2 linked regions of the Homo sapiens genome follow. The protein of the gene in region 1 interacts with the protein of each later gene in a pairwise test. Each region holds a gene or a part of one and is shown in the gene's direction. Other genes may lie near its edges.

Region 1 (3,816 bases):
GCTTGTGTGACCAGACACTATGCTGAGCAAAGACTCAGAAGTATTGTTTCCAATGATACTCACAGCTATACTATGAAGTTTGTACAATGAAGTATTCTTTCTGCTATTATATTCTTTTCCATTTCACAGAGAATGGTGCTAAATCCCAGAGAAATTAAGTAACTTGGCCAGGGTCACACAGGTGGGAAATGGCAGGGCTGGGATACAAATCCACCTCGGACTCCCAAGTCCCTCCTGCCCCTCACCACATACTATGCTATTCCTAGCAAAATTTTCCCTTTCTCTTACCCTTGGGATCAGCCAGAATAGAAGAATAATAAGACAAACTAGGCTAGAGGATGAAGTAATATTTGGAGGGGAAGCAAAAACTGGTTCCTATGAAAAAAAGCCAGATTAAGGGTAGCCAGATAAATTACAAGATGATTTAAACAAACAAACAAAAAACATGATTATATCTCCTTTTTCTTCTCTTTTTTACCAATTAAATCACCCTTAAATTTCCTTCTTTGCTGACGATAGCATCATAGGTTGCTCTCTTTGGCCCTACTTTAGTTACATGGCTTCAGTAAATTGGAGGCAGGGTCACCTAGGTCCTGTTACCTGTAATGGAAGCTGCTAAGTCCCTATTTTTCTGTGGCCCCTTGACCCTGTCCTCTGAGGAGTAGCCTCTGCCAGCAGGCTTGCCAATGGCTTTTTTCCTCCCAGGGCCCATCCCATCTCCAGGAAAGGGTGTTTCTCTTGAGGCTGGCAACTTAGAGGACCTTAGTGAGTTCTTGGTAGATGTGCCTCAGAGGTTTCTGAAGCACCGGCTGCTCCATGACGCAAGTGACATGATGTGCATGGCTTAGAGTCCCACGCTTGAAAGAGGAACGGCCCAAGATGGAAGCTTTTAGTTTGGAGAAGCATGGGCACGTTCACTGTCACTATACACGGGCATCTGGAAGAAGAAGATTCTAGCAGAAAAATATAAAATAATAGCAATTTTTTTATCTTTCTGGGGCTCAGCTATACAACTCCTGAAGCACAGACAAGGTCCAGAGAGCAAGTCAAAGAGATCCTTGAACACCCGAAGAGAAGACAACTCACACACACTTTTGATGGATCAGAAAGGCAGCCTCTTGTCTTTTATTGCTTCAACTAGTTTGACTATCTGTAGGGCCAGAAGAAATTAGAAGCACTGAATTAAAAGAGGAGGGCTAGAGGAGGACACCGTGACATCAACAGCAGGTCCTTTAGACCAGCAGTCCCCAGCCTTTTTGGCACCAGGGACCAGTTTTGTGGAATACAATTTTTCCACAGAGCATTACTTTTATTGTGCACTTTATTTCATTGTAATATATAATGAAATAATTATACAACTCACCATAATATAGAATCAGTGGGAGCGCTGAGCTTGTTTTCCTGCAACTATATATGGTCCCATCTGGCAGTGATGGGAGACAGTGTCCGATCATCAGGCATTTGATTATCATAAGGAGCGTGCAACCTAGATCCCTAGCACGTGCAGTTCACAATAGGGTTCTTGCTCCTTTGAGAATCTAATGCCGCCGCTAATCTGACAGGAGGTGGAGCTCAGGCAGTACTGCAAGCAATGGGGAGTGGCTGTAAACACAGATGAAGCTTTGCTTGCTTGCCTGCTGCTCACCTCCTGCTGTGCGGCCCGGCTCCTGATGGGCCATGGACCTGTACCGTCCAGGTTGGGGACTTCTGCTTTAGACTAAAGATTTTTACCACTGTATCACAGTAACGCTATCTCAGATAATCAGACCACAGAAGCAATGCCTGTTGTGGACAAGTTTTCTGAATCTTACCCTGTTTATAGTTAACCCACTCTTTATCTCTTTGGCTTCCTGTCTGGCTTCTGACTTTTGCTTCTGGCCTCTTTATTTGGAGTCCTATTTTTAGTATGGTGTTCTCCAACTTTCCTTTTGTCTCCGGCTGCCATTTGGAGGTCTTTGTAGTCTTTGGTAATAAACTCCCATCTCTAGTCCTATTACAGGAATTGATGCCGATGGTAATAACCTTGAATTATGAAGATGAGGCTAAATTATAGTCAGGAAACTGAACACATGCAATAAATTTTACAGAGTTTCACATCCAAAATTGCTGAAATATTATTTTGGAAAAAAAAAACAGATTTGATGCTTAAATGGGCAGATCTTCAGCTATTTGGAAAGCTCAGCTCTTCAGAAGAACAAAACCTTTGAAGTTCTTGGATACCCTTTGATTACTGTACTACTTGACACACAATTGGCATCCTAATCCCTAGAGGAAAACAGGGTGACTATGAAAAGGTTCTCAGGTCGTTTACATGGTTGTTTGGATTATTTATTAGGACTCTTCAGGACACTGATGTTCAGTAGGAGGAGAGTATGTATGTGTGTACATGTGTGCACACGTGCCTGTGAACTTACATGTGAGCATAGGCACTCCACCAGGTTTGGAATCCCTGGGGGAGCTTTTACGAAGACTAACCACAGTTTCCTTCAAGGGGATTCTGATTTTCCCTGGAAAGGAAAATGAGAGTTGCCTCGGCACAGATGTTGGTTTCAAAGAGCTCTCCTGGTGACTCACATGTGTGATTGTTCAGATTTGGATCTTCCAATTGGAATTCGCAGATTTAAAATATAGCCCAAGAGTTTTGAGTCATTCTGTCTCATAAAAATGCCGCCAGGTATTCTTTTTAGAGTCACAATATGAGGCTGGATGGACGTAGGATAACAATTCTATACATGAGTTCAGGGTTTGTCTTGTCCAGAGCTGCGAAGGTCTATTGTTTCTCTCCACCTGGGATAGTTAGGAAACCCATGCTTCTGTTGAAGTCACTCTGAGCTTGTTTAAACCTGAAAGCTTGTGAACTTACGATTTTCATTACCCTCCCCTCTCTACAGAACAGTGTGTCAGAATATTAATGAATGATAGGAAAATAAAATCTTTCTTTCCTGCTTTCTCTAACCTCTTTCACGTTAACAAACTCTAAATAGCATCTACTGGTGTGATCAAGATAGGCTTCCCATGTATACCAATAATGGAGGGAATATGAGAGGGATAAAGTGTCTGAAAGATGAAGGGAAAGAGGAGAAAACAAAGATGAAAAACAACTGTTTTTAGATAGTAACGATCTTTGCCATATTTTTAAAGCTTTATGCCAAAGGCAGCCTTTATTGCGATATGTTCAGACAAAACTCCAGTGCTCTAGGAATGCATTCAAACCCATGATAGTTGTTATAGCTCTCAGCCCATTTGTAAATTTGAACACACCTTTCTTTGATTAAGTTTCCCCTGTATGTATGATTAAAATCATGACCAGAAGTATGAGGTAGAGGGAAAGAAAATAGGAAGGAGAATTCTCTTCAAGTTGAACATCTTCTATATGGGCAAGAACACCTGCTGTCTTGGAGTTGGATAAATCCCCATTTTACACATGAAGAAATGCTTGGGGAACTTAATGACATATCTAAGGGTACCCATAACTTCATGGCCCTAAACAATCCTTTGGGACCACCAAAGAATACTTATATTTAAATTTGCTAACCTCAGAGGACTTGGAGCTCTCCAGTATTTCTAGTTTCTTCTCACCAACTCACACCCTTTCAATAGTCATTTCTCATTTAAAACCTTACCACCTCCAGAATAGTATGATTCATACCACTGTCTGGGTTATCTATTTGCTGCACAACAAGCTTCAAAATGTTGTGGCCTCAAATAATAATCATTTTGTTATACTTCACAAGTTTTTGTGGGTCAGAAATTTCATCAGAGCTTGGCTGGATATTGTCTTGCTCCATGTGGCTTTGGCTGGGGTCACTTGGTAGC
Region 2 (4,212 bases), on another chromosome or scaffold:
GGCGTGATCTCAGTTCACTGCAGCCTCCCCCTCCTGGGTTCAAGTGATTCTCCTGCCTCAGCCTCCTGAGTAGCTGGGATTACAGGCATGTACCACCACATCCAGCTAATTTTGTATTTTTAGTAGAGACGGAGTTTCTTCATGTTGGTCAGGCTGGTCTTGAACTCCTGACCTCAGGTGATCCACCTACCTCAGCCTCCCAAAGTGCTGGGATTACAGGTGTGAGCCACCACGCCCGGCCAACTATTCCATTTTTGTGGCGAGATTTTTTTGTTTTTGTTTTTGTTTTTTAATTCTTCCTTCTTAGGAGCTGTAAGACTATTCAGAGAGTTCAGAAAGGCACAAAATGGAAAGTAAATGGCTTCCACTCTTTCTCTTAAAGGAACTACTAAATACAGTGTCTTGGGTATTTTTCTAAAGTTTTTAAAAAATGAAATTATTTTGCATTTTGTTCACTTGGTAAATTTTGGAGGTCATCTCATCAGTATATTTATCTTTCGCATGTTTTTCTAGGAGTTATGTGGTTTTACATTGTAAGAACTTTAGAAAAATACATTTAGCCAGTTCTGTAACACTGAATTGTATACTAGGTTTTAGCTGACATAAGCAGTGTGTCAGTCCCTTTATATGTACCTATTTGTGTAGGTACAACTGGTCCCTGGCTTATGAAGTTTGACCTGATTTTTTTCGACTTTACAATGGTGTATAACCATACTTTGAGCACTCACACGTTGTTTTTTTTTCTTTCTTTAAGAGACAGGGTCTCTTGGCTGGGAGCAGTGGCTCACGCCTGTAATCCCAACACTTTGAGAGGCCAGGGTGGCGGATCACTTGAGCTCAGGGGTTTGAGAACAGCCTGGGCAACATAGTGAGACCTTGTCTCTAAAAAACACAAAAAATTAGCCTGGTGTAGTGGCACGCACCTGTGGTCCCAGGTACTCAGGAGGCTGAGGTGGGAGAGTAACTTGAGCCTAGGAGGTGGAGGCTACAGTGGGCCACAGTCATGCCACTACACTCTAGCCTGGGTGACAGAGTAAGACCCCATCTCAAAAAATAAAAAATTAAAAAAAAAGATCTTGCTCTGTCACCCAGGCTGGAGTGCAGTGGCACAATTATAGCTTTTTGCAGCCTCGAACTCCTGGGCTCAAGTGATCCTGCCACCTCAGTCTTCTGTGTAGCTAGGACTGCAGGTGCATGCCATCACACTTGGCTAACTTTTTAATTTTTTTGTAGAGATGGGGTCTCGCTATGTTGCCTCAGTTGGTTGTAAACTCTTGGTCCCATGCAGTTGTCCTACCTTGGCCTCCCAAAGCACTGGGATTACAGGTGTAAGCCACCGTGACTGGCCCCGTTCTATTTTTCACTTTCAGTACAGTGTTCAATGAGTTACATGAGGTACTAAACACTTCATTGTAAAAGAAGCTTTGTTTTGCCCAGCTGTAGGCTAATGTAGGTGTTCTGAGCATGTTTAAGGTAGGGTAGGTTAAGCTATGATGTTCAGCAGGTTATATGTCATAAATATATCTTCAACTTAGGATATTTTCTACTTAGGATGGGTTTTCCAAGATGTTAACCCCATCCATTGTGTTAATAAGTTGAGGAGTTTATCTGTGTGTGTATGCATCATGGTGTCCTTTAGCAAATACAGTCTTAGCAGTGGAAATTGCTGGCAGTATGATAGGGACACTTGAAAATTGCATAGATAATTGCCAACTTGAAGGCAGAGGGTGGTGCTCTTTGCATCTCAGAGCCTAGCAAAGGTAGGTAGTTGCTCAACAAACGGACTAATGTTCTAATGCAAATGCTGAATGCTCCACTTTGGAAGGGGGAGAATTTAGAGGGCAAAGGGGAATCGCACAGGGTCTTAAAGTGCAACAGCCACAGTCCTTCCTTTTTGGGGAAAAAAAAAAAAAGTCCCGGCCGGGCATGGTGGTTCACGCCTGTAATCCCAGCACTTTGGGGAGGCCAAGGCGAGCGGATCACGAGGTCAAGAGATCGAGACCATCCTGGCCAATATGATGAAACCCCATCTCTACTAAAAATACAAAAATTAGCTGGGTGTGGTGGCACGCGCCTGTAGTCCCAGCTACTTGGGAAGCTGAGGCAGGAGAATCGCTTGAACCCGGGAGGCGGAGGTTGCAGTGAGTCGAGATCACGCCACTGCAGCAAGACTCTGTCTCAAAAAAAAAAAAAAAAAATTTAAAAAGTCCCAAATCTGCCACCATTTATTCTTGATCTTTTTCAGAAGCGGCACCATGTACTACAGACGGCTCATCCCTCCCCTTTGTCAGTGTATAGAGGGTTCTTTGGATGTAGACACTTTTCAAAGACCAATGAGCTGCTGCAGAAGTCTGGCAAGAAGCCCATTGACTGGAAGGAGCTGTGATCATCAGCTGAGGGGTGGCCTTTGAGAAGCTGCTGTTAACGTATTTGCCAGTTACGAAGTTCCACTGAAAATTTTCCTATTAATTCTTAAGTACTCTGCATAAGGGGGAAAAGCTTCCAGAAAGCAGCCATGAACCAGGCTGTCCAGGAATGGCAGCTGTATCCAACCACAAACAACAAAGGCTACCCTTTGACCAAATGTCTTTCTCTGCAACATGGCTTCGGCCTAAAATATGCAGAAGACAGATGAGGTCAAATACTCAGTTGGCTCTCTTTATCTCCCTTGCCTTTATGGTGAAACAGGGGAGATGTGCACCTTTCAGGCACAGCCCTAGTTTGGCGCCTGCTGCTCCTTGGTTTTGCCTGGTTAGACTTTCAGTGACAGATGTTGGGGTGTTTTTGCTTAGAAAGGTCCCCTTGTCTCAGCCTTGCAGGGCAGGCATGCCAGTCTCTGCCAGTTCCACTGCCCCCTTGATCTTTGAAGGAGTCCTCAGGCCCCTCGCAGCATAAGGATGTTTTGCAACTTTCCAGAATCTGGCCCAGAAATTAGGGCTCAATTTCCTGATTGTAGTAGAGGTTAAGATTGCTGTGAGCTTTATCAGATAAGAGACCGAGAGAAGTAAGCTGGGTCTTGTTATTCCTTGGGTGTTGGTGGAATAAGCAGTGGAATTTGAACAAGGAAGAGGAGAAAAGGGAATTTTGTCTTTATGGGGTGGGGTGATTTTCTCCTAGGGTTATGTCCAGTTGGGGTTTTTAAGGCAGCACAGACTGCCAAGTACTGTTTTTTTTAACCGACTGAAATCACTTTGGGATATTTTTTCCTGCAACACTGGAAAGTTTTAGTTTTTTAAGAAGTACTCATGCAGATATATATATATATATTTTTCCCAGTCCTTTTTTTAAGAGACGGTCTTTATTGGGTCTGCACCTCCATCCTTGATCTTGTTAGCAATGCTGTTTTTGCTGTTAGTCGGGTTAGAGTTGGCTCTACGCGAGGTTTGTTAATAAAAGTTTGTTAAAAGTTTGTTTTGTGCAAGTGTCCTTTGTGCGTCCAGGCCAGGGCATCCATGGACGTCCTTGGGCTGCCCTTTCCCTTGGCGCCTCCCAGGGTTCCCATAGCAACCACCGTCTGCAGGAGGGGCCGCCCTTGCCCCTCCTCCCCGCCCTGCCGCTCAGTGGAACGGCCCAACCCTCCCCTGGCTGCGGTGAGCGCTGGGCCCAACCCCCGGCCTGGAGCAGCGCCCCAACTCCGAGCACCGTGGAGCACCGGCTGCCAGCTGAGACCCCAGAGGGGTAACTAACGGCCTGAGGAAGGCATTTCTTCGGGGAACATGGCGTGCCCGTCGTGGCTACGTTCTGCCAAGCCCTGTGACGTTGGAGGGGAGCCGCCTGCATCCCCCGCTCAGCCAGTGTTTCTAGACTCCGAGACATCTGGAACTCGGAAGTGAGGCCAGGGCTCCAGGAAGACTCCCTGATGACGCACTGGCCCGCAGCCCAGGCTCAGGTAGTGGGGGCTGTCAGGATGATCTGTGGGATCCCCCAGTGTCCGAAGAAAGAAGCCACAATTGTGTTTTTTTTTCTTTCTTTCTTTTTCTTTTTTTTTTTTTGAGCGAGTCTCACTCTGTCGCTCAGGCTGAAGTACAGTGGCGCGATCTCGGCTCACTGCAACCTCTGCCTCCAGGGGTCAAGCAATCCTCCCACCTCAGCCTCCCAAGTAGCTGGGATTACGAGCATGCACTACCACGCCCGGCTAATTTTTGTACTTTTAGTAGAGAAACTTTTAACTAAATGGGCAAGAAAGAATGCATCCAGCCAGAACCTCGAGAC

The links.
Region 2: the proteins of TGFB2 (region 1) and UNG interact in binary tests that used the Homo sapiens proteins (3 or more experiments, as listed by UniProt).

The regions. Positions count from the first base shown.
Region 1 is NC_000001.11:218,407,543-218,411,358, forward strand, and holds part of TGFB2 (transforming growth factor beta-2 proprotein isoform 2 preproprotein), read left to right. Parts: intron 1-3,816.
Region 2 is NC_000012.12:109,107,584-109,111,795, forward strand, and holds the end of UNG (uracil-DNA glycosylase), read left to right. Parts: intron 1-2,245; coding exon 2,246-2,386; 3' UTR 2,387-3,409; downstream 3,410-4,212. UniProt on the Homo sapiens protein: Uracil-DNA glycosylase that hydrolyzes the N-glycosidic bond between uracil and deoxyribose in single- and double-stranded DNA (ssDNA and dsDNA) to release a free uracil residue and form an abasic (apurinic/apyrimidinic; AP) site.